Linked DNA regions of Homo sapiens. The protein of the gene in region 2 purifies or fractionates together with the protein of the main gene of each other region. This does not show direct contact. Each region holds a gene or a part of one and is shown on either strand. Other genes may lie near its edges.

Evidence for each region.
Region 1: the proteins of CDC26 (region 2) and ANAPC4 purify together in Homo sapiens (affinity purification with mass spectrometry; 11 studies listed by BioGRID and IntAct, with this or other methods). This does not show direct contact.
Region 3: the proteins of CDC26 (region 2) and ACOT8 purify together in Homo sapiens (affinity purification with mass spectrometry; one large-scale study listed by BioGRID and IntAct). This does not show direct contact.
Region 4: the proteins of CDC26 (region 2) and ANKRD22 purify together in Homo sapiens (co-immunoprecipitation; one large-scale study listed by IntAct). This does not show direct contact.
Region 5: the proteins of CDC26 (region 2) and ANAPC1 purify together in Homo sapiens (co-immunoprecipitation; 6 studies listed by BioGRID and IntAct, with this or other methods). This does not show direct contact.
Region 6: the proteins of CDC26 (region 2) and ANAPC7 purify together in Homo sapiens (affinity purification with mass spectrometry; 5 studies listed by BioGRID and IntAct, with this or other methods). This does not show direct contact.
Region 7: the proteins of CDC26 (region 2) and ANAPC2 purify together in Homo sapiens (co-immunoprecipitation; 7 studies listed by BioGRID and IntAct, with this or other methods). This does not show direct contact.

Annotation. Positions count from the first base shown.
Region 1 is NC_000004.12:25,383,448-25,387,694, forward strand, and holds part of ANAPC4 (anaphase-promoting complex subunit 4), read left to right. Parts: intron 1-4,247. UniProt on the Homo sapiens protein: Component of the anaphase promoting complex/cyclosome (APC/C), a cell cycle-regulated E3 ubiquitin ligase that controls progression through mitosis and the G1 phase of the cell cycle.
Region 2 is NC_000009.12:113,266,076-113,269,863, forward strand, and holds the end of CDC26 (anaphase-promoting complex subunit CDC26), read right to left. Parts: intron 1,365-3,788; coding exon 1,188-1,364; 3' UTR 917-1,187; downstream 1-916. UniProt on the Homo sapiens protein: Component of the anaphase promoting complex/cyclosome (APC/C), a cell cycle-regulated E3 ubiquitin ligase that controls progression through mitosis and the G1 phase of the cell cycle.
Region 3 is NC_000020.11:45,846,781-45,851,027, forward strand, and holds part of ACOT8 (acyl-coenzyme A thioesterase 8), read right to left. Parts: intron 1,896-4,247; coding exon 1,670-1,895; intron 1-1,669. UniProt on the Homo sapiens protein: Catalyzes the hydrolysis of acyl-CoAs into free fatty acids and coenzyme A (CoASH), regulating their respective intracellular levels. Displays no strong substrate specificity with respect to the carboxylic acid moiety of Acyl-CoAs.
Region 4 is NC_000010.11:88,848,702-88,853,550, reverse strand, and holds the start of ANKRD22 (ankyrin repeat domain-containing protein 22), read left to right. Parts: upstream 1-1,706; 5' UTR 1,707-1,943; coding exon 1,944-1,964; intron 1,965-4,849.
Region 5 is NC_000002.12:111,772,694-111,776,940, forward strand, and holds part of ANAPC1 (anaphase-promoting complex subunit 1), read right to left. Parts: coding exon 4,166-4,247; intron 1-4,165. UniProt on the Homo sapiens protein: Component of the anaphase promoting complex/cyclosome (APC/C), a cell cycle-regulated E3 ubiquitin ligase that controls progression through mitosis and the G1 phase of the cell cycle.
Region 6 is NC_000012.12:110,375,989-110,380,235, reverse strand, and holds part of ANAPC7 (anaphase-promoting complex subunit 7), read left to right. Parts: intron 1-2,392; exon of another isoform or gene 2,393-2,531; intron 2,532-2,618; coding exon 2,619-2,843; intron 2,844-4,019; coding exon 4,020-4,170; coding exon of another isoform or gene 4,171-4,174; exon of another isoform or gene 4,175-4,247. UniProt on the Homo sapiens protein: Component of the anaphase promoting complex/cyclosome (APC/C), a cell cycle-regulated E3 ubiquitin ligase that controls progression through mitosis and the G1 phase of the cell cycle.
Region 7 is NC_000009.12:137,174,035-137,179,058, forward strand, and holds the end of ANAPC2 (anaphase-promoting complex subunit 2), read right to left. Parts: intron 4,083-5,024; coding exon of another isoform or gene 4,034-4,082; intron 3,748-4,033; exon of another isoform or gene 1,804-3,747; coding exon 1,674-1,803; exon of another isoform or gene 1,482-1,673; coding exon of another isoform or gene 1,439-1,481; coding exon 1,203-1,438; exon of another isoform or gene 1,121-1,202; coding exon 908-1,120; 3' UTR 750-907; downstream 1-749. UniProt on the Homo sapiens protein: Together with the RING-H2 protein ANAPC11, constitutes the catalytic component of the anaphase promoting complex/cyclosome (APC/C), a cell cycle-regulated E3 ubiquitin ligase that controls progression through mitosis and the G1 phase of the cell cycle.

The DNA.
Region 1 (4,247 bases), on a different chromosome or scaffold from region 2:
AAATGGAAACTTAGGAGTATCTGAGTATTGGGTGTATGTGCGTTGTATTTAAATTTTGGTTTCAGTTTATCAAGATGAAATTTTTTAATGCTTTCTTAGATTTTTTTTTTCCTTCCGATAAACATCTATAGGCATACCTCAGAGATATTGTGGGCTTGGTTCCAGACCACTGCAATAAAGTGAACATTGCAATAAAAGCAAGTCATTTGAATTTCTTTGTTTCTCAGTGCATGTAAAAGTTATGTTTATATTATGCTATAGTACATTTAAATGTGCAATGACATCATGTCTAAAAAAATTAAGCATGTAACTTAATTAAAATATACTTTATTGCTAAAAAATGCTAACGATCATCTGAGCTTTTAGTGAGTTGTGATCTCACTGAAGGTGGAGGATTTTGCCTTGGTGCTGACAGCTGCTGACTGATCAGGGTGGTGGCAGCCGAAGGTTAAGGTGGCTGTGGCAATTTCTTAACATCAACAACAGTGGAATTTGTCACATCAGTTGACTCTTTCTTTCAAGAAAGATTTCTTTGTAGCATGAGATGCTATTTGATAGCATTTTACCCAAGGTAGAACTTCTTTCAAAATTAGAGTCAGCTCTCTCCAACTCTACTGCTGCTTTATCAACTAAGTTTATGGAATATTCTAAATCCTTTGTCATGTCAACATTGCTCATAGCATGTTTACCAGGACTAAATTCCATCTCAACAAAGCACTTTCTTTGCTCATCCCTAAGAAGCAACTCCTTATCCGTTCAAGTTTCGTCATGAGATTGCAGCAGTTCAGTCCCATCTTCAGGCTCTACTTCTAATTCTAGTTCTCTTGCTATTTCCACCAGATCTGCAGTTACTTCCTCCAGTGAAGTGTTGAACCCCTCAAAGTCATCCATGAGGGTTGGAATCAACTTCTTCCAAACTCCTGTTAATGTTGATATTTTGACTTCTTCCCATGAATTGTGAATGTTCTTAATGACATCCAGAATGGTGAATCCTTTCTAGAAGGTTTTCAGTTTGCTTTGCCCAGATCCATCAGAGCGATCGCTATGTCAGCTCTAGCTTTATGAAATGTTTTTCTGAAATAACAAGACTTGAAAGATGGCCAGGCACAGCAGCTCATGCCTGTAATCCCAGCACTTTGGGAGGCCAAGGTAGGCAGGAGCTCAGGAGTTCAAGACGAGCCTGGGCAACATGGTGAAACCCTATCTTAAAAATTAGCCAGGCGTGGTAGCTATAGTCCCAGCTGCTCAGGAGGCTGAGGTGGGAGGATCACCTGACCCTAAGGAGGTTGAGGCCGCAGTGAGCCGTAACTGGACCACTGCACTCCAACCTGGGTGACAGAGTGACCTGTCTCAAAAAAAAAAAAAGACTTGACAGTTGAAATTACCATTTGACCCATACGATGCAGAATGGATTTGTGTGTTAACAGGCATGAAAACAACATTAATCTTATATATCTCTATCAGAGCTCTTGGGTGACCAGTCATGAATGAGCAATAATATTTTGAAAGGAACCTTTTTTCAGAGCAGTGGGCCTCAACAGTGGATTAAAACATTTAGTGAACCGTGCTGTAAACAGATATGCTGTCATTTAGGCTTTGTTGTTCCATTTATAGAACACAGATGGGATAGATTTAGCATAATTGTTAAGGGCTGTAGGATTTTCAGAACAGTAAATGAGTTTTGGATTCAACTTAAAGTTACCAGCTATGTTAACCCCTAAAAAGAGAATCAGCTTATCCTTTGAAGCTTTGAAGCCAGGCATTGACTCCTCTCTAGCTATGAAAGTCCTAGGTGGTGCTATATTTCACTGGCTTTAAAATACATACATACGTATACATATATATATCTCTATATGTATATATGTTTTAATAAATAAATAGAAAATCCTCGATGGCATCTTCCAATAAAAGGCTGTTCTTCTCCATTGAAAATCTGTTGTTGAGTGTAACCACTTTCTTCAGTGATTTAGCTGGAAGTTCTGTATAACTTGTTGCGGCTTTCTCTCAGCACTTTCATAGAATTGAAGAGAGTTGGGGCCTTACTCTAGATTAGGCTTTGGCTTAACAGAATGTTGTGGCTGGTTTGATCTGTCCAGATCACTAAAACTTTCTCCATATCAGCAGTAAGGCTGTTTCACATTTTTATTTTTTTTGTATTTACTGGAGTAGCACTTTTAATTTCCTTTAAGAACTTTTCCTTTGAATTCACAACTTGGAGGACTGGCAAAAGAAGCCTAGCTTTTGGCCTAATCTTGGTTTTCAACGTGCCTTCCTCTCTAAGCCTAATCATTTCTAGCTTTTGATTTAAAGTGAGACAGTTGAACACTTAGAGGTCATTGTAGGGATATTAACTGGTCTGGTTTCAATATTGTTGTGTCTCAAGGAATAGGGAGGCCTGTGCAAAGGAAGAGAGAGGGAATGGCCAGTAAATAGAGCAGTTAGAACACTCACATTTCTCCATTTTTTAAAATTTATTTTTATTTATTTATTATTTATTTTTGAGACGGAGTTTCGCTCTTATTGCCCAGGCTGGAGTGCAGTGGCGCCATCTTGGCTCACCTCCCAGGTTGATTCTCCTGCCTTAGCCTCGAGAGTAGCTGGGATTACAGACATGCGCCACCACGCCCAGCTAATTTTGTATTTTTAGTAGAGATGGGGTTTCTCCGTGTTGGTCAGACTGGTCTTGAACTTCCGACCTCAGGTAACCCGCCCGCTTCGGCCTCCCAAAGTGCTGGGATTACAGGCATAAGCCTCAGCGCCTGGCCTTATTTATTTATTTTTTGAGACACAGTTATCATTCTGTCACCCAGGCCAGAGTGCAGTGGTACAATTTCAGCTCACTGTAGCCTCTGCCTGCAGGGTTCAAGTGATTCTCCTGCCTCAGCCTCCCGAGAAACTGGAATTACAGGTGTGTGCCACCATGCCCAGCTAATTTTTATATTTTTAGTGGAGACGGGATTTCACCATGTTGGCCAGGCTGGTCTCGAACTCCTCTCAAGTGATTTGCCCTCCTCGGCCTCCCAAAGCTCTGGGATTATAGACGTGAGCCACCATACCCAGCCGAAGCTCACCATTTTATATGGCCATGGTTTGTGGCACCCCTAAACAATTATAATAGTAACATCAAAGATTACTGACCTCAAATCACCATAACAAATAATATAATAATGAAAAAAATTGCAGTATTGCAAATATTTCAAAATGTGACACAGAAGTACAACGTGAGCACATGGCTGCTGGAAAAAGGACTCCAATAGACTTGCTTGGCTGATAGACTTGCTTGACACAGGGTTGCCACAAACTTGATTTGTGAAAAATGCAGTATCTGGGAAGCAGGATGAAGGGAAGCACAATTGAAGGAGATATGCCTGTATTTTCTTGTTGAAGCAGTAAACCTGAATAGCTAAGAGTTTTCTCCTCTTTCTAGTCATTTCATACTCCAAAAATAGTTACTGAGGCACAAAAAACAAAGCTCTAGACGAGATAAATGGTGAAATGGAAAACAACCTCAATTTGCCAATCAGTAATTTTAAAGTTTTATTAATTAATACATATATTAATTTCCATTTCATGATTTATATCATCTGGAACTTTTTTTTGTGTCTCAGTAAGTATTCTTAGAGTATGAAAAATGCTAAGTTGAGCATTCTGTCTAATGCTGGACAGGTTTTTTCTTTGTCCATGGTCCTGATAATTTCCTTGTTTCATAAAAATAATTCTGCATTAGTGTGTGTAGTCAAGTAATACACCAGGGTTGTAGTGAAGAAGGCCGGAGGAATCAGTGGGTTTGGCTAATACTGAAAACAAAAATTGTTTTTCTTTTTTGGGGAAATATGCTAATTTTCTTACCATTAACTTTTCCTTTCTAATTAAGTTATACTAAGGTAATATCAAATGAATTTGTAAATCCTGAATATTAATTGCCAGCTTTCCTAAGGGAAGCCTGAAAGAATTGGATGACAAGGGTTTGACCTGGGGTTTGAAATTCACTGTAGATAAACCAGAGTGATAAATCCATCATCAGATAATGAAGGATTACAAATCGTTATGTGAATATGTAGAATGTTAGAGGGTCAGAGCATATCATGTAATTCCTATTCCAGCCCGGTTATCTGCTGTGTGTATTCCCAACATACTTTCTACTAACAGTTTAGAAGTGTTATGTGGCGATTCCAGGGTCTCTCAAGACAGCTCCTTTTTATTAAAGTAGGAAAAAATACTTGCTAAATCACCACTTTTTTACTTGC
Region 2 (3,788 bases):
ACCTCAGCCTCCCAAAGTGCTGGGATTACAGGCATGAGCCACCATGCCCGGCCCTTCTTTTTTTTTTTTTTTTAATTTTATAGAGTCAGGGTTTCCCTGTGTTGCCCAGGCTGGTCTAACTCCTGGACTCAAGCAATCCTCCTGCCTCAGCCTCCCGAAGTGCTGGGATTACAGGCATGAGCCACCACACCTGTCCCTCTCCCCCTCGTATTACTCAGACTTAAACTACCCCAAAAAGGCTAAAGTCCTGCTAAGAGTCTCCGTAGAACTGATGATTCAAGAGGCTCTTATGATCACAGCTGGTGATTCCCTGTGTTGAATTAGTGAAAACAGGCCAGGCACAGTAATCCCAGCACTTTGAGAGGACTGCTTAATGTCAGGAGCTCAAGCCCAGCTTGGGCAACACAGATGCCTGTCTCTACATAAAACAATAAAAATTTTTAAAAAAAATTTTTTTTTAATGCCCAGAACAATAGGGCATGATTCAAAATTATCCTCCGAGCTGCCTCTCTGGTTCTTTCTGGGAAAAACACTTAGGCAAGTTGAGAAAGGAAGGAAAGTTGGAATAATGGCAAAACTGTTAGAAGCATTCCTCTTTCCTCCATTGCCTGTCCTCCCAACATTATACCCAAACTAGTTACAAAGCCATTCTGTAAAGAGATCGGGTACCTACAATTTCTTCAGATTTACACAATATCCACTAGAATTTAATTTCTACAAGGGCAGGGATCTTTGTTGAGTGGCACATGGTAGACACTCAATAAATACTTATTGAATAGATGGGTTAAGTGAAAGTGGCAGGGATCAACTAGAGTGTCCTGTGCTTAGGGTCTTTTAATAAAGATGGAAAGAATGATGTTAATCTTGTAGCAATTATCTTTTAAAGTCTGGGAATTAACAGTACTGTTATACTTCATTAAGGATGCCTCACATTTTTCCAAAAATATATTTATTTTTAAAAACAGAAAATCAGATCAGTTTTATAGAGTCAAATTTTCAAGAGACAAACCAGAGTTTGGATTCCAGCTTAGAGTGCAAGTGAAGCATCAGTAATCTCATGCAGAAGATTTGTCTCTGCAGGAGGTACATTCTGCTTGACTGCAAGCACTCAATTCTCTAAATCTGGTTTGTACTTCTGCCATCATTTTATTCCATTCCAGCGCTCTGGCATGCAAGATAATCCATCTCTAAAATTCAAGACTTCCAAATTGAGATGAACGATTATTGGGCTTGGGTTGGGGTTTATAACCAATCCGATCATTGATCATTTGTTCCCGGCTCTTGGGATCACTGCTAAGCCCAATGGCTCCTTCTCCATCACTGCCTCCTACAACTTCCACATCTTCCTTCTGTTTCTTACGGGTCTGAAAGTATAAAAGTTTTAGGATTAAGGCAACATTCTTTCAATTAGCAAATGTTTATTTAGAACACCTACCATGTACTAGGCATGGGCTAAATGATAGAGTTAGGGTGTAAAGAACAATAAACTGAAATCCTAGGTTTGGAGTACTTAGGGGCACAATGAGGATATGGTGTTAAAAGTTGTAACCCCTGATCACTTGAGGTCAGGAGTTCGAGACTAGCCTGGCAAACATGGTGAAACCCTATCTCTACTAAAAATACAAAAATTTGGCGGGGCACGGTGGCTCACATCTGTAATCCCAGCCCTTTGGGAGGCTGAGGCGAGCGGATCACGAGGTCAGGAGATCGAGACCACCCTAGCCAACATGGTGAAACTCCATCTCTACTAAAAATACAAAAATTAGCTGGGCATGGTGGCGCATGCCTGTAATCCCAGCTACTTGGGAGGCTGAGGCAGGAGAATCGCTTGAACCAGGAAGTCGGAGGTTGCAGAGAGCTGAGATGGTGCCACTGCACTCCAGCCTGGCGACAGAGCGAGACTCTGTCTTAAAAAAAACAAAAGATGTAACCCCTACCCTCCAGGATGTCACAGTCTAATAGGGAAACAGGCAAACAGACGATTATAGGGTGATCAGGGCTATGACCTATGACAGAGAGAAGTCTACACTGCCAAAGAGACAAGAGGTAAGGAGTTGGGGTGTGGTGGTACAACAGGAAGCTACAATTGGAAAGCTGTAAGAGCAGACAAGTGAGAGCAAAGGGCATTTCAACAAATTTATTATTCTAGAGAATAGAAAAATAAATTGGGTAAAGAAATAACCACCAAAAATCTATAGCCTGACTGATCCCATGAGATTAAAAGTAACTCAAGAAGGTTTTATGCTATCTTATCAAAAGGTCTGGGTTTTGTGGCTTCATTTTGTTTTCAGATAAAAGGTTTGGCTCCTAAGTCACATGTGACTGCAGAATCCAGAAAGTATGTCTTAGTTTGATCATTTTCAAAAACAGACACTTATCCCATAACAGCCACTACCTGACTGTAAGGATAACAGATGATAACTTTCTCTAAGAGAGTGAAATGATGTTTTATCCAAAGTTACTTAATAGAAGAATGGCTCAGCTACTCAAATCACTGGAATTACCACCATTCTTCACCACTTGCTGCTGAACTGTGGGCATTTAAATGCCAAGCATCAGGCTGACCGCAGTGGCTCATGCCTGTAAATCCCAGTGCTTTGGGAGGCCAAGGCGGAGGATTGCTTGAGCCCAGGAGTGTGACACTAGCCTGGGCAACATAGTGACACTCCATCTGTCTCCACAATTTTTTTTTTTTCTTTAGACTGAGTCTCTGTCTGTTGCCAGGCTGGAGTGTAGTGGCGCCATCTTGGCTCACTGCAACCTCCGCCTCCTGGGTTCAAGCGATTCTCCTGCCTCAGCCTCTCAAGTAGTTGGGACTACAGGCGCATGCCAGCACACCTGGCTAATTTTTGCACTTTTAGTAGAGACAGGGTTTCAACATGTTAGCTAGGATGGTCTCAATCTCTTGACCTCGTGATCCGCCTGCCTCGGCCTCTCAAGGTGCTGGGGTTTACAGGCATGAGCCACCGCACCCGGCCCACAAAAAAATTTAAAAATTAGCCAGGCATGGTGGCGCATGCCTGTATTCCCAGTTATTCAGGGGGCCTGATGTGGTAGGATCACCTGAGCCTGGCAGGTCAAGGCTGCAGTGAGCTGTGATCATGCCACTGTACTCCAGCCAGGGCGACAGAGCAAGACCCTGTCTCAACAATAAAAATAAAAAAAAAAAATAAATGCCAACACTCACAAAGTATTACAGGGAATAAAATAAGGTATTGCCTTTTATGTGGCAAATGACCTTCCTGATTACTAGTAAGTGATGTTAGAAAGTTCTACCTAAATACCTTTGTGAAAACAAGTTCGAAAAGGCAAACAACTCTATCATTCTGAGAATATCCAAATGGAATGAAATCACTTAAAAGGCTTCCCACTTTGAGCAACTGCTGTTTCAGAAGCTAGAGTCACAGTAGTATAATCAAACTCATGTTGGTAATAAATGAAACAGGCCAGTTTTCTACTGGTTTCACTTTAGGGCATGACTGTCCCTGCTTCCTAAGTTACTCTAAAACAAGGTAAAACCCACTAGATAACTGTCTTTAGTGGAAAGACTAACTCAATAGTGAGCTGACTGTAGAGTCAAAGTTCAGCATGCTAGCATTTTATGAGATTCGTTACAACTGAAGTTTAAGCCATACTTTAAAGCTCATGCTTAATAATATATGAGTTTTTAGAAAGCAAAAATTACGATACTTAGAGAACACTAAAGTCTCTTGGGATGAAGCAGGGGGAAAGAAATCTAAGTTATTAGTCTTAATATGAAGCATATACAATACATAATAAAGCTGTTG
Region 3 (4,247 bases), on a different chromosome or scaffold from region 2:
TTTTTCAAACTTGATTAGGTGTGATCCAAATAAATATATTTTACCAGGTATTCAAAATATCTAACATGCTCCCTGGTGGTCTAATGGTTAGGGGAAAATACATATTTGTATTTTTGTACATATGTTTTATATACATAAAACATGTGGCCGGGCACGGTGGCTCACGCCTGTAATCCCAGCACTTTGAGAGACCAAGGCAGGTCGATCACTTGAGGTCAGGAGTTCAAGACCAGCCTGGTCAACATAGCGAAACCTGGTCTCTACTAAAAAAATACAAAAATTAGCCAGGCATGGTGGCATGTGCCTGTAATCACAGCTGCTTGGGAGGCTGAGGCACGGGAATTGCTTGAACCTGGGAGGCAGAGGTTGCAGTGAGCCGAGATCATGCCACTGCACTCCAGCCTAGGCAACAGGGCGAGACTCTGTCTCAAAACAAACAAACAAACAAAAACATGCACTAATGCAAAGGCAGTGACCAAACATAGGCCATAGCGCTGCAGCTCTCCAGAGGACACTCACTCCTGGTGTGCATTAAGTCCTAAGTTGCTGGACCAGGGGCCTGGGGGAGAGAGGGAATCACTTAGGGGGCTGGGGAGGTGGTACTTAACAAGTGGTTACGGAAGTATTTCTATATACATATATATATAAAATATATATATGGTTTTTTTTCCCAGGTATGGTGGCTCATGCCTATAATCCCAGCACTTTAGGAGGTCAAGGTGGGTGGATCACCTGAGATCAAGAGTTTGAGACCAGCCTGGATAGCATGGTGAAACGCCATCTCTACTAAAAATACAAAATTAGCTGGGCATGGTAGCAGGTGCCTGTAATCCCAGCTACTTGGGAGGCTGAGGCGGGAGGATCACTTGAGTCTGGGAGTCAGAGGCTGCAGTGAGCCGAGATGGTGTCACTGCACTCCAGCCTGGGCAACAAGAGCAAGACTCCATCTCAAAAACAAACAAACATGTATATATATAAACAACAACAAAATATATATTCTTTTTTTCTTTTTTCAGACAGAGTCTTGCTCTTGTTGCCCAGGCTGGAGCACAGTAACACGATCTCGGCTCACTGCAGCCTCCACCTCCCAGGCTCAAGTGATCCCCCCGCCTCAGCCTCCCAAGTAGCTGGGACTACAGACACATGCCCCGACACCCGGCTAATTTTTGTATTTTTTATAGAGACAGGGTTTCACCATGTTGCCCAGGCTGGTCTTGAACTCCTGGGCTCAGGTGATCCTCCCACTTGGGCTTCCCAAAGTGTTATTATAGGTATGAGCCCCCACACCCAGCCCCAGCCTTATTTTTAAATTAGAGATGGAGTCTTGCTATGTTGGCGAGGCTAGTATCCAACTCCTGGTCTCAAGCAATCCTCCTGCCTTGGCTTCCCAAAGTGCTGGGATTATAGGTATGCGCCACTGCACCCGGCCAAGCCCTTCATTTTATACCATGACCCAGTACAGACACACACCAGAAACACACATGACTAAACCTCAAGTTTCACAAAAGGATTCTTGCCCTTAATACATACATATTATTCACTCCAGTATCTTCTTTTCTAATCTGTATTTTAAAAATGCTGGTCAAGACCCACTAAAGGATTCTATGACCCACAAACAGATAGCAGCTGCATTTTGAAAAGTCTGCCATGGAGCCTCCAGGTCTCTCACCTTAAATACTGGTCAATGAGGGTCTCACAGTCAAGCAGCTCTTCTGGTGGTGGCACAGTGGGCATGGAGAACTGGTGCTGCATGGGGCTGGGCTGGGCCTGCTGGAAGGAGGCCTGGCAGATGAAGATGGGCTTCCCATGTTGCACGGCCTTCACAGAGCGCACCGAGAAGCTCGACCCTGTTCGTGTCCGCTCCACTTGGTACAGTACTGGCAGCTTCGGGTCCCCTGCAGTGGGCACAAGGACACAGTGGGTCCACAGGCCCTGTCATCATCACAACGCCTGACAGGCACTCTACTACTCATCTTCCATTCCATTTCATCTCAGTGACTACTAACTGAGGTCTGCTAAGGTCCAGGCCCAGGGATACAGAGACCACCAGGCCCTGTCATCAGGCTTCTCCCTGTGCAGGTGGAGCTTTTCTCTAACAGCACAAACAGCAGAGACATTGACAGATTCCTTGCATTCAAATCCTGGCTCCACCACTCACCAGCCGTGTGACCCTTCACTTCTCTGAGCAGTGTGCTTATTTGCAAACTGGGGATCATCATGGTGCTCATCGCTTACAGGATTTTAATGATAATGAAATGAATCCGTAGTTGTAAAGTGTTTAGAATAATATCTGGCACATAGTGAGGGCTCTATATGTGTTTGTTAAATAAAATTAATACTCCTTGCTTCTATCTTGCTCCATCTATGCCTGGGATCTTGTCATCAGTCCAAAACCATTATTCTAGATCAGGGAGCAGTAAATCTAGCCTGCAGCCTGTTTACTGTTTATTCTGTTGTTGTTTTCTTTTTTGAGAACAAACAAAGGCTATTTATTCAGCGCTTGTTCTTTTTTTTGTTTGTTTGAGATGGAGTCTTGCTCTGTCACCCAGGCTGGAGTACAGTGGTGTAATCTCGGCTCACTGCAACCTCCACCTCTCAGGTTCAAGCGATTCCTGTGACTCAGCCTCCTGAGTGGGGGGGGACTACAGGGGTGCATGACCATACCCAGCTAATTTTTTTTTTTTTTTTGAGAGACAGTTTCGCTGGGTCACCGAGGCTGAAGTGCAGTGGCGCTATCTGGGCTCACTGCAACCTCTGCCTCCCAGGTTCAAGCCATGCTCATGCCTCAGCCTCCTAAGTAGCTGGGACTACAGGCGTGCGCCGCTACACCCAACAAATTTTTGTATTTTTTGTAGAGATGGGGTTTCACTGTGTTGCCCAGGCTGGTCTCAAACTCCTGACCTCAACTGATCCACCCACCTTGGCCTCCCAAAGTGTTGAGATTACAGGCATGAGCCACTGCGCCCAGCCAATCAGAGCTTGTTGTAGCAGGAAGTCAACCACCATCACTTGCTTTTGGCAGAGACTTAGAGGCAGGCAAAGGAATGGGAATGCTCTGTAGTGGAAAAAAAGGCTTCAGGGATGCTCCCATTGCAGGCTGTTGGCATGGGGAAGCTGTTGGTGGGCTAACTAGAAGCATGACACCTGGCTGGGCACGGTGGCTCACACCTGTAATCCCAACACTTTGGGAGGCTGAGGCGGGCAGATCTTCTGAGACCAGGAGTTCAAGACCAGCCTGGCCAACATGGCAAAACCCTGTCTCTACTAAAAATACAAAAAATTAGCCAGGCCTGGTGGCACACACCTGTAATCCTAGCTACTCGGGAGGCTGCAGCAGGAGAATTGCTTGAAGCTGGGAGGTGGAGGCTATGGCAGGAGAACTGCTTGAACCTGGGAGGTGGAGGCTGCAGTGAGCCGAAATTGCACCACTGCACTCCAGCCTGGGGAACAAGAGTGAAACTCTGTCTCAAAAAAGAGTGGGACATCCTATGTGATTGGTTAGGAGTACATATTTGGCTTTCTCCGGTTGGTCCTAAGTTGGAAGCAGGGGCAAAAATTAGGGCAGCTATCAGTTATTAATCAAGTCCTGGCTTTGGAGGCCAATTGTTACAGTGGTCATTATTTGGCTTGCTGGACTGGTTGGTAAAGATAGTGGTCTGACTTCCTACAAGTCTGACTTGTGGATAGTAGGCTGGCTTCCTGTGCTGGTTGCTGCTATTGTGCGTCAGAGTTCTGTTTTTCTACATGGTCTAGCCATTGTCTGTTTGTATATTCAGCCTCTCCCAGGCAAGGGCCACTGTCAGTCACTTCACCCCTGATGTATATGGAAGCCATTTGGTCCTTCACTGTCAGGTGTCTCTGCTCCAAAGCAGAGTGGAAGAGCCTAGGCAACACAGGGAGACCCTGTTTCTACAAAAAATAAAAAATAAAAATTAGCTGGACATGGTGGCATGTGCCTATAGTCCCAGCTAATCAAGAGGCTGAGGCGGAAGGATCACTTGAGGCCAGGAGATCAAGGCTGCAGTGAGCCATGACTGCGTCACTGTGCTCCAGCCTAGGTGACAGAGCAAGACCTTGTCTCAAAAACAACAAGACCACCACCACCAGAGTAGAAGGCACTGGCCAGGGATAAGGCAGCCAACAACAAGCAGGTGAGGGAAGATTTGGAGAGGAAGAGAACTTCCCTGGTTTCCCTGAAGTTCTCACTTTGTCTGAGTCAGGCTGACCTTGAGGAACCCTGACATCTG
Region 4 (4,849 bases), on a different chromosome or scaffold from region 2:
AGGAAAGAGCTTGAAGAAGAAAGCTAGCAGCAACCTTAGGAGAGAAGCAATGACAGTGAAGAGTTCTGTCCACACAAATTAGTTGAAAGAGGTTACAAAAGAGGCTACCAGAGGTTACAAAATATTGCATAACAGAGTGAAGTACCCAATGGATATACCATTAATGTTTTTCTAAGTCAATGGGAAGACACTTAAATGTCTTAAGAGTCTACAGAAATACAAAATCAAACCAAGCCAAAGAGGAAGTCAGCTGCAATTTTAGTGGGTATTGCAGACTTCCCTCTCCTCCAACGGAAGAATTAGCTAATTCTTAAACTCCAGAGAGGCTGGCCTCGATGTCAACTGCATAGTGAAACATAAAATCTTTGAAATAATTATAAAAATAGCTCAGTATATCCACCAGTGGAGTAAGAAGAATTTCCCTGAATATTTATAAGCACAGGCCTAGTATCCTGGTCACTAGTTTCTGGCCACTAAGGAGCCTCAACTGATTGGGAAAATCACATCAATTGGTTTGAGATGGTTGAACTATTTCTTCCATGATATTATTGAGCAAATAGGCTTGCTGCCCCCTGCTCACAGAAGCCAATATCTGGACACTGGGTTTTGAGGAAAGAAAAACTTTATTGCAAGACAGGTCAGCAAGGAGACAGGAGGTGGGCTCAAATCTGCCTCCCCAGTTTGGAATCTGAGAAAATGTATGGCTTAGAGGGTGAGGGAAAGGATTTAGGAATGTTGGTTTGGCAGGGACTGATTGAAGGGCTTCAAATTTGACCACTAAAGGTAAGGTATGTTGAGGCAGATTTCAGCCCTGGATCTTTTGGGCCAATGAGCCCCTAGCTTCTGAAAGAGGTCCTGCATTTAGGTTCCCGTCATGTCCTTGTCTTCTTGGTTCCCAGGGGAGGGATCATTTGTTCTAGGTTCTGTTAGAGGCAAAAACATTTTTATTGTGCATGCCTGGGCTAAATGACTTACAGTTTTTGGCTCTGTTATATCTACAGAGTAAATTGACATTTGTTATCAACAAAGTACGGCCCATTTGGGCTGGTCCCATGGTTATAATGGGTGTGTGGACGGTCGAGTGTTTCAATTCTGGGAAAGTTTGATGTGATTGTATTCAGTTCAAGGAAAATGTGTGAATGATATCATATATAGCATATAAAATGTTTACAATATTTAAGAGATTGGGCATACTAGCATGTTTGATAAATAAATTGATGATGCAATTTAAAATGCATAACAGAGTATTTGATTTTAGACTTATGATTTTTAAATTGAATATTATAAAGTAATTTGGCTAAATGTGTGAATAGTATTGGAATATTTAAAACAACTTAAGATTTATTATGTTAGTAAATTTATTAGTTTACAAAACTGCATAAATAGCTGGAAAAGCGTTACTTGTTAGGCTGAGAATTTTGAAGATTATTTTTCAAGTTCTTTGCCAGACACGTGTGGCTCTCACAAGTAAGTTTGTTGGTCTCTAGCCTTTCTCAATGGCCACTGAAAACCAGATTTTGATTACGAAATGTCTGAAATACAGTATCTTGGTTTGAACCGTGAGTCCTTCCTGCCAATGTAAGAACTTTTCTTCCTCCCTTAACTTTGCTTCCTTCTTTCCTGCATGTTACCACTGGCAGAGCAAATATGACTCAGAAACCGGCTCCTCAGGGTTGTAACATTAGATGATACAGGCTTGGGTCGTTACACATGACACCAGTGCCTTTGTTTCATTGGGCTGGGCTCTCTGGAAGGTGTGCTGCTGCCTGAGCTGCTGGAAAAGCACTGACAGGTGTTTGCTAGAAAAGCACTCCTGGAGCTTGCCACCAGCTTGGACTTCTAGGGACTTTCCTCTCAGCCAGGAAGGATTTTGATATTCATCAGAAATACCTCCAGAAGATTCAAGGAGCTGTAGAGGTGAAGTAAGCCTGTGAAGGACCAGCATGGGAATCCTATACTCTGAGGTACATCACCTTTCTGAAAGCAGAGTTCCAAAGATGTTAAAAGTTACTCATGCTTTTCAGATGCAATTTTCTATCCCTGTTAATATATTTCTGTTTTGTCTGTTCAACTCCCTGGGGGAGCATTAAGTCAGAAAAAATAAAGTCCTATGTGTTATTCTTGTTGATATTCTTAATAGTTTAAGACAAAGTATTTTGTAATTCTAAAATATTAGCTAGATCTAAGTTGAGATGAATATAATACACATTTCATAGTATCTGGATGTTTGCAAGGATAATTTGGACAAAATCGAGTTTGAGTTGTGCTTTTCTCATGACAAACACTCAGAGAAAAAGAGAAAATTGTACTCAATTGGATTTTCTAAATATCCAAAAGATTGACTGCCTCTTTTATGGAACCACATGACCAGAGTAATGCCTTTCAGCTTGGTATTTGAAGGGAGATTCACCTTTAGTAAATATTAGTAAAGACTATCACTATGAAGAAGAGGAATAATAACATATTTTGATGATTTGATTATTTTCTTTTCACATCTGATAAATACTGAGGTACTTTTACTTGTATTGGAAGTAACTTATTAGAATCAAATGGATTTTTAATGATGTTTCAAGAAAGTACAAGCAAGGAATGTTTAGACAAGAGTACAAGAGGTGTAATGATGTCATTATACATAATTTACTCTCTCTCTCCTCTGACACAATTAACTGGTTAATCTGCATTTCATTGCAGATGCTCAGGGGAACCTTCTTGGATAGTTTTGATCTAGTATTAAAGACAGTTTATTTGCAGTTATTTCTAATGCCATGTGTGTATATATCTCTCCGTGTGTGCAAATGCAGTGTTTGATTGGTTTATAACTCTAGGTATGTCTTGCTCAGTGATTTTAGCCTCATGAAGGGATCATATACATGAAAATGACAAAACATATAGTGCTTTTAAATGCTACTCTGGTAACTCTCAAACTTTAGACTGCCCAAGTGTCAGGGAGAGAAGTTTGTTTGAAATGCAGTTTCAAGGGACTCCAACCCAGAGAGTCTGTTTCACTCAGTCTATGGTAGGATACAAAAGTATACTTTTTAAAAGGAGCATCCCAGGTGGTTCTGACATAGGGGTGATCTGTTTACCACCATCCTGAGAAAGAAAGACTGCCACAGGCCAGTGCTTTCCCGTTTTTAATGTCTATACAGATCTTCTGAAGGTCTTGTTTAAATGCAGATTCTTAGTTTGTAGACCTGGGTGGGACCTAAGATTCTGCATTTTGGTTGCTTTTTCAGATTGCATGTGGGAATTATATGTGATTTGGAAAAAGGAAAAAAAAAAGCCTAGTCTCATCCTCAGGTATTCTGATGTAGAAAGTTGGAAGTAGGACCTTTCATCTATAGTTTTAAAGAGTTTGAGACTCTTTAAAATTAAATAGTAATCTCTTAAATATTTAAACATAGCCTACTCATTTGTAATATATCATTTGCTCTGTGTTTCCTAAGGATAAAGATTGTGAGCTACTCATTAAGGACAAGAAAAAAGCCTGCTGGATCCCTGGTCCTATGTTGCCTGGAAGAATCTATTCAAAAAAAAAAAAAAAACTTCCCCCAATTTGAGTGCGGGAAGCTCCTCTAGATTGGGGACATAGGGTTATCATTTTTCCTTAGAGCTTTGCAGTGCTAATAGTTATGCAATATATATTTTTAAGAAAGAAGGAGAGAATGAGGGAGGATCCCAGAGAGCTGGTCCTGAAATCTGCACTAGAGGATAAGCTTAGAGCTCAGTGAGAGGCCCTAATTTTGAATAAGTAACTCCAACTGCGTAAGATGGACTTTTAAACAAGGCTGATTCATTTAAACCCTTATCAAAGGTATTTGTTCATAATATTTACAATAGCAACAAACATGTATTTAGGGCTTCTTATAGATTAGGCCCTATTTTAAGCACTTTATATATGTATTAACTCATTTAATACAGCAATCTTGTAAGAGTCACTTTTAGTATCCTTATTTTACAAATGAAGAAACTGAGGAAAAGGTAGTCACTGGCTCATAGTTACACAGTTGAAAAGTGCTTATTGGCTGGAGATTGGTGGCTAGGATGAGTCCTGTGTTTACTCATTCAAAGAGATTCTTCTTACATCACTGCTGAACTACTAAATTTTTCTACTACTTGTTATTTCAACAGATATGTCATGCTCCATAAGAGAATTGGTCTTAACCACTCTGGTGTTCTGCCACTGTTCTAACCAGGATGGTGCCCTGTTCCCTTAGTGGAAAGAATGAGTAAACTAAATCCAGGTCCAATGAGGTACATTCTACTGCTACCTTGCAACAGAGAACTGTTGCATTGTGAAGTAGCACAAAAATCGGAAAGAAGAAAAATGCTGAGAACTTAAAAGAGTTCAGGAACTAATACTTAGGAGACTTAAAGAATCTTTTACAGACTTTTGGTCTCTTCAGTTGCAGACACAGGCCCCAAAAAGCGTTTCTTGAAAATCATATCTTAAATGATGTATTCCTTTAAACATTGGGAAGTTCTCATTATAAGGCTGTAAGTAAAAGGATGCACACACACCCACACACACACACACACACACATGCACATGCACACACACAAACTTAAAATTAATCCTTTGGCAATGGATATGTTTTTCAGAGAAGCTGATGTTACTACAGAAAAAGGAAATATAGTTCAAAAAACAGAAAGATTGTCTTGAAATATACAATGCCTAGGGAGAGCAATTTAGATCAAGCAAGTTTTATTGGAAAAGCTGGTACAGTTGAGGAGGAGAAGTCAGGGAATACAGGAATAGAGATGTGACTAATTGAATGGCCATTGGACTGAAAGTCAAGCAATCCTATATTTTAGACCTGATTGTGCCAGGAACTTCAAGGGATTTGAG
Region 5 (4,247 bases), on a different chromosome or scaffold from region 2:
GACACAAACAAATGCATAATTACAAATTGTGAGGAGTGCTATAAAGGTGCAGTGGTCACTGTGGTTGTCTCCCCGAAATACCCCTTGTCACACCCTACCCTCCACCATATATTATATTTGATGGGACTGACTTCAGCTCCAGAACTAGATCCTTACTAGTCTTGGCCAGGGGTCCTCAAACTTTAACATGTGCCAGAATCACCTGGAAGGCTTGTTAAACCACAGATGAGTGGGCCCCACTCCATGCACAGAGCACAGAGATTCTTATTCAGTAGGTCTGGGGTGGGGCCAGAAAAACTCCATTTCTAACAAGTGCCCAGGTCATGCTGCTCCATAAACCACACTTTGAGAATCACTGATCTTGGGTGATCAAGGCAATCCCATTCTCCTGATGCAGTGTTAGTTCAGAGACAGGCAGACCCAGGCCATTTTTTCAATAAGAGACATTCTCTGCCACAGGGATAGATTGAGAGGTGTGCATGAGATGCAACTCGAGCCAGAAACCTGAGGAGGTACTTAATGACAAGCTTGCTGGAGGCTCCAGGGAAAGAAATTCCCTCATTCTCATCACAAAACTCCTAGAAGCAACTCTATTCTTCCTCTGAGTATCATGCTGAGCTAGAGGTGAACATGTTACAGCCATTTGATTACCATCCGAAAAATGCACTGAGGATAAAGTCATGGCACAGAATGTAGCTGATGGAACCTCAGAGAAATGGAGTTGAAGACACTGGAAAAAGATGACCCTTTACGTGCCTTACCTGCAGACCTCTAATAACATAGGCATACTTGTGTCCTTACTGTTTAAAGGCAGGTTAAGTCAGGCCTTCTTTTACTTGCAAACAAAGGCATTTTGATACAGAAAAAAGGTAGAGAGCATGAGCGGGCAGGCTAAAGATGTCAGGAAAGCTGCCTGAGGGAGAGTGGTCTTGGAAGGCCTGGGAGGAAATGCCATTAAAACTGAGGCTGCATGGATAAATATGAGTTGGGCAGGTGAAGAATGAGAGGAAAAGGTTCTAGGGAGGGAAAACAGCATATTCAATGGCCCCACAGTGAAAAGGAGCTCAGTGTTTTTGAGTAAGTGGAAGGGGCCAGGGTGGTGTGGGGAGCAAGTGGTGTAAAAGAGGCTTTGTTGAGGAAAACAGGCGCCTTGCAGGTCACACAGGTCCTGGTGCCACACAGTAGGGATTTCTTTCACAGCTGAATCAGGAGCCATTGAAAAGCTTTAAGCAGGAGTGTTACATCAGTTTATTCTTTAAAAGACTGTTCTGTCAGTTAAATTGAGATGGTTGGAATGGAGATGAGAAAAAGCAAGGAGGCTATTTAGGAGGCTATAACAGTGGTCCAGGCACAAAATCATCATTCTGTTCTAGGTAGAAATAGTAAAATGTGGACAAATTCAAGAAATATCTATGATGAGGATTGAAAGGCATCAGCAATGGGTCAGCTATTGCAGAGAAGGGAAGGAGGGAAAGGAGCAAGGATGACTTCCAAAAGGGTCAACAAAGGAGTGACAGTGAAATGGTGACAAATACTGAGAATTTTTAAAGAGGATTTTTTTTAAAAATTGGGAAAGTGTGCTATGACAAAGTCAAGGGAGGCTCATTTCAAGAAGGAAAATGTAGCTAAAAGCCTCACCATTGTAGAGATGGAGTGAGATGAAAACTGTAGACTCCACTGAACACAGTTGTGAGGATGTCAGTCTACTGGGAGGTGGAAACATTTAGGTTTGGGGGAGGCAGCAGAGGGAGAAAGGTTAAGGGAGAACAGATGAGATTCTTCTTTGAACAGCTCATCATGAAGGAGAGCATGGTGGTTCAGCCTCTCTTCAATGACTTTCTCATGTCTACCAGCATTTTGTTTCACTGATTTTCTCTATTGCTTATCTGTTTTTGGTTTCATTGGTTTCTGCTTTTATTTGCTTGCTTTGGGTTTACTTTGCTTTCCTACTGCACTTGACAAGTCTTAAAAAAAAAAAAAAAAAAAAAGGACAATGCCAAAAATTGCATTGCAATCCACTGCTGGTGGGAAAGTAAAATGGCACAATTTGGAAAATTGAGTGTGGCAATGGGTGAAGGTACAAATGACGCAAAAATAGGAGAATGCTGGCAACTATTAAAATTGGTGTTGTGGTTTATTACACTAGTCTACTTACTTTGTATATTCTTTAAATTTCCATAACAAAATATGAAAAAGTTAATAAAACTTTTTAAAGTTCTTAAACTTGAAACCCGCTTTCTTTGCCCAAAATTATAATTTGAGGAGATAAATACTGTACAAAACATTTATATAGGCCAGGCGCCATGGCTCATGCCTGTAATCCCAGCACTTTGGGAGGCCAAGGCACGTAGATCATGAGGTCAGGAGTTCGAGATCAGACTGAACAACATGGTGAAACCCCGTCTCTACTAAAAGTACAAAAATTAGCTGGGTGTGGTGGCGTGCACCTGTAATCCCAGCTACTCAGGAGGCTGAGGCAGGACACTCGCTTGAACCCAGGAGGTGGAGGTTGCAGTGAGCTGAGATCGCGCCACTGCACTCCACCCTGGCGACAGAGCGAGACTCTGTCTCAAAGAAAGAAAAAACAAAACCGACATTTATATAATATAAATTGGCTGCATTTTCAGATTAGTGTAGTGATTTAATGGGTTATCTCAGATCTAATGAGTTGTCAGTGAGTGATCCTGAAAGTCCACATATGCATCTGTGATTTTTACACACAAATATGAATGCAATTTCCAATTTTCAGTTAATTTATTGTTCTCTACCCCAAAGCCAACTGCTAGTGCTTGTAAGAGAGGAGACTATATATTTAAGAGGTTTTGTTTTAAAAAAAATTCTAGTTTTTCACTAAAAAATAAACACATTTTTGATAAATCTGTGTGGCAAGTCAAATTCAATGGAGGCTGACAGCAATGCTGGAAACCACCAAATGCGCTAAAGAGCAACAAGGCAATCAGGGCCCTGTTTTAGAGAATGTTCTAATCACTGCCAAAGTTCCATACATTATATGAAATGTGCAAATCAGGGAATCTGCAAAGATTTAAGGAAGTATTTATTATCAATAGCAAAGGTCTGCCATAGGTGATCAAATGTTAAATTGAATAAAAACGAAACACGAAAACCTTTGAAATAACATGTTTTTCCCCAAAAATGAGGATAAAAATGACTATCCAAAAAATTATGAAGCTATATGATCTTTGAATCTGAACAGGAAATGACAAATACAATGCAGCTTTTAAATATAAACATGGAGAGTCTGAAATCAGGCTTTCCAAGTATATCCCTCACAACTTGGTTTACAATTTAATTTTTTTCAGAAATTTATTTCCTAGTGTTACAGGTGGATAGTTTTAAACTCAATTATATTCAAACGCTTAGGGTCTATTGATTACTAATAGTTTTCACTAATCAAAGCAAGAATTGTTTCTACTACTATTACTAAGGTTAGTATTAACCCAAAGCAAGCAACTGTCAGATATTTACTGGGAGCATTTGAATGAACTAAAAAGAATGAAAAGATCAAGGAGTCTACTCCTGAAAATCAGTTTCAGGTGTATTTAACACACAGATACATTTCCATAAATCTAAAGGCCCCATCGCTTGCCTCATGTAAGTCAGAATCACTTCTACACTGTTAACGAGTAACTACAATTTCCTTGCAATCACAAATCCTGCTGATAGAAAGCCACCACTGTGACATCACATAGCTGTGCGGTCCCAGGTTTTCAAAACTGAGTTGGTACAACAAGCTCACTCAGCAAGCACACGTCAACTTCTACATGTACATGTGGTGCCAGTACAAAAACAGGATGGCTGCTGGCCTCAGGAAGGCAACAGGCCACACCCCTAGGAAACAGGAGACAGAGGCACTGGAAAGGAAATGTGACCTGATGCTAGGGAAGAGAGAACAAGGTCCTGAGCACCAAGTGGTATTTAAAATGCTATAAATATTATCTGCCTGGGTCAGATGTATTTTACTAAAGAAGCTAAAGTAGATAATCAAAGTCTAATTCATCTAGCTGGAAACGTTAAATCTATAGCCATTCTTGCTTATACTCAGATTTATCTTGCTTACCAATGAAAAAACAAAGTTACAACAGAAAAGCCTGAACCGAATGTATCTCAAAAGCACAAGAGCGCTATGCTACAATGCTACTATTACCTTGTAGCCACTGGTCCAGGGTATTATCAATGGTGCACTTCACAACAGGGAGGAATTCCGAGTTCATAAAGAGCCCCCGCTT
Region 6 (4,247 bases), on a different chromosome or scaffold from region 2:
GGGATTACAGGCATACACCACCACACCCAGCTCATTTTTGTATTTTTAGTAGAGATGGGGTTTCGCCATGTTAGCCAGGCTGGTCCCGAACTCCTGGGCTTAAGTGATCTGCCCAATTCAGCCTCCTAAAGTGCTGGGATTACAGACGTGAACCACTGTACATGGCCTGTTAGGCCTATTCTTTTTCGTGGCCATCTTACCTTGGGCCAGAGTTAGTACTCGTGGGATAACTCCACATCCATATGATAGTGTTGGCTGTGGGAATGGGTCTGTTCATTGTGACCTCCAGAGTGGGCACAATCAGGGTCCAACTTTGTTTTGTTATGTAATATTTTAAGTTCATGTGAATTGACCCTGGGAGTTCAAAGGAGCTGTGCCAGTTTCAGCAACGTTTGGTGACTCAGTCACAGACATTAAAATAGATCTTACAAGATGCAGTTCCTCCAAAACATATTTTTATAAGCATTTAAAAATAAACCTAGGAGTCTAGGAGTGATTTGCTCTTAACAGGAAGATGAGTTCAAATTTGAGAAATAAAATTTGGATGTTGGGAAAGAGAACAAATCTGCTTATATAGCCAGAGAGCTATGCCTCTGGATTTGTTGAGGGGGAAAGAGTATTGTCTTTGTTCTGAAAGAAGCTCTAGCAAACCAACCATTGATTTCAGATTAACTTCTTGATCCTGAAACTGTAACTTCCCTGTCTTCCCAGCTGCTGTTAATCATGTTAATTCCATTATACTGCATGCCTATTTCACCAGAGCTCAGGGATGCGGTTGAATAGTCCGTCCTATAATATTTGGACAGCGGATGTTTCCCAGTTGGCCAGTGAGGCTTCTTAAGCTGCCATTTGGAGATTTAGGTCAGGGCAACTCTGACTACACCCTTTGATATTTCTTACAGTTTCCAGTTGGAGCTTCCTTCTTTTGCTGGTAGAGATTTAGGTTAGGCAAGTGCATTCTGTTTTTTTCTGAAGTTCCAGTAGGGCTTTAGCAGGGAAGTAAAACTATTCAGTAAGTAATTGCAAACAACTGTATGTGGAATCCAACATGTTGCCCTTAAGAGTTAGGTAATTGGCTGGGTATGGTGGCTCATGCCTGTAGTCCTAGCACTTTGGGAGGCTGAGGCGGGTGGAACACCTGACGTCAGGAGTTCGAGACCAGCCTAGCCAACATGGTGAACTACCATCTCTACTAAAAATAGAAACAAATTTAGCCAGGCATGGTGGTGCACGCCTGTAGTCCCAGCTACTTGGGAGGCTGAGGCAGGAGAATTGCTTGAACCCAGGAGACATGGGTTGCAGTGAGCCGAGATGTCACCACTGCCCTCCAGCCTGGGTGACAGAGCAAGACTCCATTTCAAAAAAAAAAAAAAAAATAGTTAGAGTTAGGTAATTTCTGGTTAAGTAACCATAGTGTGTGGAAGGGTGTGCATGAATGTTATAAATGCTGCTAGGGTGGAGGAGTATGCAGAGAAAATCTGCCAAGGATTGTGTGGGTTTGGGGTTTTAAGCTGTTTTTTTGTTTTGATGAGCACTTTGTGCCAAAAAGTTATTCCTCTGTTCTCCTCAACTTACTGGCATGAAGAGTTGAGAGTTGACTCTTCTCAAGGTGGCCTCCTCATAGGGCGTCTCGCTGTGGGTGTGGAAAGAGGCAAGGGCTGCCAGTTGCAGTCTGTTTGGTGCATGTGGTAAGTACTGTTCATCTCGTTTAGGGAAGCCCTCAGCAAGTGCCTTTTGAGACAGCTGTTACGTTTCAAATAAAAGAGTCTTTCTCCCTAAGTTGCTTGACAATAAGTCCTTTATTTGTCAAACTGTAAATTCACTTTAAGACTCTAGGAGCCAGGCCAGGCACGGTGGCTTACGCCTGTAATCCTAATACTTTGGGAGGCTGAGCTGGGCGGATCACCTGAGGTCAGGAGTTCGAGAGCAGCCTGACCAACATGGAGAAACCCCGTCTCTACTAAAAATACAAAACTAGCCGGGTGTGGTGGTGCATGCTTGTAATCCCAGCTACTCGGGAGGCTGAGGGAGGAGAATCGCTTGAACCCGGGAGGCGGAGATTGCAGTGAGCCGAGATGGCGCCATTGCGCTCCAGCCTGGGCAACGAGAGTGAAACTCTGTCGCAAAAAAAATAAATAATAAAATAAAGACCCTAGGAGTCTTCCATCTTAAACCTAGCCCTACAGGTGACCGAATGCAGCTGGAGAATAACTGCTTGTTAAGAGGCAGCAAAACCTTGGGTTTTGTTGGGAACATCATCTCTCACTACTTTGATCTCTTGGCCATATGACAGACTAATCATTAGTGTCGCATTTATTCTTCCAGTGGTCAGATGGGGTGCTCACATGCTGCAGGTTCCTTACATGTGCTTGTTTCCTTCCCTAAACTGAAGGTGCCTTTGAAGGCAGTCTTTTTCTACATCCATCAAGTTCTCTGGGGAAGAGCACTTCTTAGCTATTCCATCAACACTCTTGCCAGTCTAATCTCACCATCAGTTTCCCGTGGCCTGCCCTTTGTCTGAAACTTTGAAGGTTAGCAATTTGGAGAGCTGTCAGAGTGGAAGCATGGGTTGGAATGGTAATGGCATTGAATGTCTTCACGTGTTTTACTTTTTTCAGGTCTTATCGAATGTTACTTAGCCTCCAACAGTATTCGAGAAGCAATGGTAATGGCTAACAACGTTTACAAAACTCTGGGAGCAAATGCACAGACCCTTACCCTTTTAGCCACCGTTTGTCTTGAAGACCCAGTGACACAGGAGAAAGCCAAAACATTATTAGATAAAGCCCTGACCCAAAGGCCAGATTACATTAAGGCTGTGGTGAAAAAAGCAGAACTACTTAGTAAGTGTGTCTTATTTTCTGTCCTGTTCATCATTAATTTTTATAAAACCTGACCTCAGTTGGAGCCCCTTGTCCCAGCTAGTTACAGATGACTAGACAGGTGTGTGCCTTTTGCAGCAGGTCTGAGCCTGCTTGGATTGGTTTATATTTAGCCCAACCAAACGTAGCTGGCTTAGATCTGCTTGGCTTGGTTCCAACCACCTATAATTGGTTGGTATCTATTCGGCTCACTAATTTTTTTTTTTTTTTTTTTTTTGAGACGGCATCTTGCTCTGTCACCCAGGCTGGAGTGCAGTGGTGCGATCTCAGCTCACTGCAACCTCCGCCTCCCGGGTTCAAGCAATTCTTCTGCCTCAGCCTCCTGAGTAGCTGGGACTACAGGCGTGCACCACCATGCCCAGCTAATTTTTTTATTTTTTATTATTTTTTTTTATAGTAGAGATGGGGTTTCACCATATTGGCCAGGCCGGTTTCGAAATCCTGACCTTGTGATCCACCCGCCTCGGCCTCCCAAAGTGGTGGGATTATAGGTGTGAGCCACCGTGCCCAGCCTCGGCTCACTGTTATCTGGTTTGAGTTGTCCTGAATTAGTTGGAGCTGAATATAACTAACTGATTTTAGCCATTTTGAGTGGAGCTATCTGGATGATTTTATGACTTCCCGTTTGGCCCTTTTTTTTTTTTTTCAGTCCTGATTTATGATAAACTCATAATTTGGTTCATTGAATTTGGGCTAGTTGGCAAAGCAGTTTGGCTTTTTAAAGTTAAGAGCCCATTTAAAACATTATAATTCAAACTGCAAATTTCTTTTTTTTTTTTTTTTTTGAGATGGAGTCTCGCTCTGTTGCCCAGACTGGAGTGTAGTGGCACAATCACGGCTCACTGCAAGCTCCGCCTCCTGGGTTCAGGCCATTCACCTGCCTCAGCCTCCCGAGTAGCTGGGACTACAGGCACCTGCCACCAAGCCCGGCTAATTTTTTGTATTTTTAGTAGAGACGGGGTTTCACTGTGTTAGCCAGGATGGAAAATTTCTTAACTGAATAGGGCTTCAGGTGTGCTTGCCCTCGCTTTGTGTTGCACCAGTGTTCTCTTGAGGATGTCTGCAAAGAGATGGTCAGAATGGTAGTTGTGGTTTTTTTGTACATGACTTAAGTGAGGGTCTTTTTTATTCCCCCAGGCAGAGAACAGAAATATGAAGATGGAATTGCTTTGCTGAGGAACGCACTGGCTAATCAGAGTGACTGTGTCCTGCATCGGATCCTAGGAGATTTCCTTGTAGCTGTCAATGAGTATCAGGAGGCAATGGACCAGTATAGTATAGCACTAAGGTAGGCACTAGCCTCCCTTGGGGGAAGGCCACTGAGGAGGGTAGAGGAGGCAGTGAGCTGTGTCACAGGAGTTATGG
Region 7 (5,024 bases), about 24 Mb from region 2:
CTGGAAACGGCACCTCTGGGACAGAGGCCCAGGTTTGAGCAGCAGAAGAGCCCAGAACTGGACCCTAGGGCCCTTGCTCAGTTTTGTGGCGTCTCCCTCTCCTAGTGCCAGCCTCTAGGACAGGACCTGGGCAGCCTGCACACGCGTGACCACACGTGTGAAGGACGTAGGGGCGACCTGCCTTTCTGAGGCACACCTGTGAAGCTGAGCCCTCCGGCCACCCTGCCTGAGTGTGGAGCAGGGGACAAGTGCCCAGTCCCTCTGGCCACCAGGGCACAGCCTTCGGCAGAGCCTCACTGCCAGAGACGAGGCGTGTTGGCCTAGAGGTCATTCGCCAGCCTCAGCAATTCCAACCGAACCCGCACAACGTCCCAACCTCGCCCGAGACCTCCTGGCCGAGCGTGTGGAGGTGGGCACAGGCTGAGCAGAGGGTGACCCCAGGGCTCCTTCTAAAGGCCAGAGGCGCAGGAATGGAGCTGGAGGTCTGGCGGGTAGCAAGCACTAAGCCCTAGGACGTGGCTGCCTGAGCCGTGGCCCGGGCGTGACGTGGACCTTCACGTGCCGCTCCCTGAGCACCCTGGGTCGGGGGCGGCCCGGGATTCTCTCAGGAGGCTACATTCCCAGTGCAGATGTGTAGGCCTAGGTGGCCCCTCACCTGCTGCTGAGGAGCAGGCCCTGCCAGGCTGAGAGAGAGGCCCAGGCTAGAGGAGGATCCTGGGGGGCCCCACAAAGCCACCAGGACAGAAAAGGATGATCTGACTTGCTTTAATCTGCACACTGCGGGGGTGGGGGTGGGCATGCTCCTCAGCAGTGCATTCTGGGACACGGGCGGGCGGGGGCTGGCACGGGAGGACGAGAGCACCTGCAGGGCAGCGCCTGGCGGGCGGGCGGGCGGGCGGGCGATGTGTCAGCTGCAGTTCTTGGGCAGGCGGTAGACGCCGGCCGAGTAGACGAGCTGCTGGTCCCGCACCTTCTTCTGCAGGTAGCCCTGCAGCTCCTGCAGGTCAATCTCGGCCAGTGCAGGCCCAGTCACCACAAACATGCGGAGCATGTTGTAGATACGATCCAGTGAGAGGCTCTCCAGGTTGGTCAGCATGGCCTGGATGTACGTCCAGAAGAGCTGCGGACACAGGCCAGCCCCCGTCAGGCACCTGCAGGCCTCGCCCCCGCCCCCTGGCCCCCCGTGGGGCCTGCACGCGCACCAGCAGCTCCTCCTCCTTCTGGTCGGCCTGGGAGGCCATGCCGGAGTCGCTCTCGTCGTCACTGTCAATGAGCACCATGTTGTCCCGGTCCTGAGGCCGCTCCTCCTCAATGACAGAGAAGGTGCCGGGGGGCTCCTCACGCAGCACACCCTGCTGCAGCCACACGGACATCCGCCGCCGCAGCAGCGCCACGGGCATCTTCACCGCCTTGCTCAGTTCCTCCAGGGTCCAGCTGGCTGCGTGCAGAGTCACCGGGACGCTGGGCAGCCTGGGCACGGGCTGCACCTCCCCTGCCTCCCGTCAGCCGAGAGGTCGGGGGGCTCCCGGGCCACCCTGCCTTGCCCGTGGGAAAGGGAAGGGTGCCGCCTGCTGGCGCAGCTGCCCCAAACCACACCCTCACTGGGGAACAGCCCCTCACCCACAGCTGGGCCGTGTGGCCGGGGCAGGCCAGCTAGGGGCTGGTGGGCTCACCTTGGTCCTGAAAATACAGCAAGATCACCGCCTGTACTGGGGTGACCGCCACAGACAGCGTGCGGTCGGCCAGCTCCACGTCCATGGTCACCAGGCCCAGGGTGTGCTTCCAACTGAGGGTCCGCATGGCCTAAGGAGGGCCAGGGTCAGCACGGGCAGCTCGGCTGCAGGGCGCTCAGGCCCGTGGGCTCTGCCACCTGGTACCAGTGAGAAAGGGGCTCCCAGAGCCACCTGCCCCACCCCACCCTGGCAGGCAGGTGAGCAGCGAGAGCACAGGACTGGGTGGGGTCCCCACCTGCTCAGCCACCATGGAAGGGCAATGGGGCCAGCATCATAAGGTGTGTCCCGAAAAGGCTACAGGGGCCTCCTGACCCCCAGTGCTTGGAAATGTGGCCATATTTGCAAACAGGGTTGATGCAGATGTAACTGAGGTGCATCCTAACCCAACTGACTGGGGTCCTTCTAAGAAAAGGAAAGATAGGAAGACACAGGCAGGCGGGGAGGGGGCCACACGAAGACAGAGACCACCTGGAGCAACGCGGCCACAAGCCAAGAAACACCAAGGGCTGTGGCAAACACCAGAAGCTGGGGGGCAACGGAGGTCTCTAAGAGGGTTCAGAGGGAACGGGGCTGCCAGTACTTTCATCTTGGACTTCCAGCCTCCAAAACTAAGACAATCTATTTCTGTTTTTTAAGCCACCCAGTTTGTGACACTTTGTTACAGCAGCCACAGTAAACGAACAGATTTTGGTACCAGGAAGGGCCAGGAGGGGTGCTGCCAAAACCTAACACCAAGAACTGTGGCAGCAGCTTTGGAAGTGGGTGATGGGGAGAGGCTGGAAGAACTGGTGAGGCCTGCACGACTGCTGGTAGAAAGGCATGAAGACAAGCCTGGAAATGGCTGGAAGAGGAGAGCTGCCGCCGTCTTGGAGAATGCACACAGCATCACAGACTGGATGTCGGCAGCAATGCCGACCCAACAGGTGCTTCCAGTGAGGTCTCAGATGGAAATGACCGTGCTACTGGGAACCGGAGGAGGCAGCAGAGAGCTTGGCTGGCTGCTGCTCTGCTGTTGGGTGCGAAGTGGGACCTGCAGCTGATGAGCCTGGACATCAAGCTGAGATTTCCAAGCAGTGTGGAAGGTGCCACCTGGCTTCTCCTTGCTACTTATAGCAGAATGCAAGAGGGAAACAATCAGTGAGGCAGGGACCATTAAGCAAAAAGGCACCAGCCCTTGGGGATCTGAAAAATACTCTATCCAGGCAGCTCTGAGACGTGGCCAAGGGTGTGGCTGGACCAGGGTTTGCTAGACATGAGGTGTGACCTGTGTATCCAACTAACCATCTCAGCAGCAGACAGGGACAGGTGGGGCCTCCGGGAAAGGGCTGCGGACCCGCCTGTCTGAAGGCTTCGGCACTGGTGAGCTGCATAAGCCAACAAGGTGTGAGAATTTTACACCCGCAGAAGTGCTGCCAGGCTGGAGTGAAAGGAAGGCAGGCTCCAAGAGCAGAGCCGCCGAGGCCAAGGCTGACGGAGCAGGGGGCCAAAGAGGATTCGCAGGCCTGGAAGTCAAGTGGAATTTCGGCTGCTGGGTTTGGACTCGCTGTCCTTTTTCCTCCCAGTTTTCCCTTTTGGGGTGGGAATGTGTATGCTTGTCTTACGGCTGAACTTTTGAAACAGATCATCTGTTGGCTGATTTCACGGCGTCCCAGCTGGAGGAATGGCGCGCACTCCAGCCTCACCTGTACCTTGTTTAGATCTATTTACGTAGAGGAATGGCGCACACTCCAGCCTCACCTGGACCTCGTTAAGATGCATTTACAGGCTGAGATGTGTGTGGAACTTTGTGTGGATGGTAGTTAGATGAGATTTTGGACTTGGAGTTGATGCTGAAATGGTGAAGACTTTTGGGGACACTGGGGCTGTCACTTGCACGTGGGAGGGGCCCACCATGGGGCAAATTGTCATGCACTGAATTGTGCCCCTCGAAAAATGACACATGAACCCCTAACTCCCGGTGCCTCTGATGAGATCTTATTTGGAAATACGGTCATTAAAGATATAATTAAGATGACGTCACCCTGGAATAGAGAGAGTGTTCTTCTAAGAGGGAGATAGGAACAGAGACACGGGGGAACATCACGGGCGACGCGGCAGAGACCAGAGCGAGGCACCCACAGGCCCCGGAGCTCCTGGAGCCCCCAGAAGCTGGAAGAGGGGAGGAAGCAGCCTCCCCTAGAGCCTTCGGAGGGCCCTGCTGACCCTGACTTTAGACTTCTGACTTCTGTAAAATGATATGTTTCTTTTAAGCCCGCTGGTTTGTGGTACTTTGTTCTGGTAGCACTGGGGCACTGACACACCTGCTCTGTGGGCCAAGGGCTCCTGAGTCCTTCCAGGATCCGGCAGCTTCTAATGGAAACAAACCCCTCTTTATGGACAGAAAATGGAAGTGGAGTCAGTGGCTTGCTAGGTCCTAGTTCTGGCTCCAAGGCCATGACCTCCACAAACGCCGCCACTGGTCAGCCTGCCGCAGGACACATGCAAGGGCTCAGGGGTGACGCTGTGGGCTGCATGGCCAGCCACGTGTCCAACAAGGTCGCTCGGCCAGGAGCTCTGCTGGTGGGACCTCTCAGCACAGCCCCGGGGCCTCCCTGAGCCACTCCTGTGTCCCACTGAAGTTAAGACAAAGGGCACTAGAGTGTGGCTGTCCCAGCACATCAGGCCTGAGCAACAGGAAGTGGCTGAGTCATGCCTGGGACCCAAGGCAGGACCCTGGAGGGAGGCCATTGGGGCCTTGCCTGGAAGCAACGCTGGAGAGCCTGAGGCAGCCAGAGGGGCAGGGGGAAAGGGACCGAGCACGGAGCCGGGCCACACGGATGATTTGTACCAGAACACAGCGGGGCACGGTGCCCGCAGGCTCCAGAGACACCAGGCTGTATCACAGGCCAGAGCTCGAGGTGTGGGGATGGCCAGGGTGCTCCTTTCCACCGAGAGCAGGTGCAAGCCACACAGACCCTCCACAAGCTGCAAGGGACACCTGGACTCTTCCAGAGCCAAGCTGAGGCCTGGAGGGAGGCAGCAGGCATTCGCCACCATGGTCAGCAGCCCGGCCCTACCACAGCCCCTTGGCCTCCTGCCCTGGGGGCCTCCGCCTGGCCCTCCCCTTGTCTGTCTCCGGAAGGAAGCTTCCCCCTTGGTTTCTAAAGTGGACACATCGCCCTGCCCTCCCCTAGGAGTAAGTTCCCTTGGTTTGTCAACACAGCAAGGCCCTCTTACTTGCAAAAGAAAAAGGAAAACACATCTAGGTCCAGCCTCCTTCACAGCAGACCTGGAGAAGCTGTGGACCCTCCC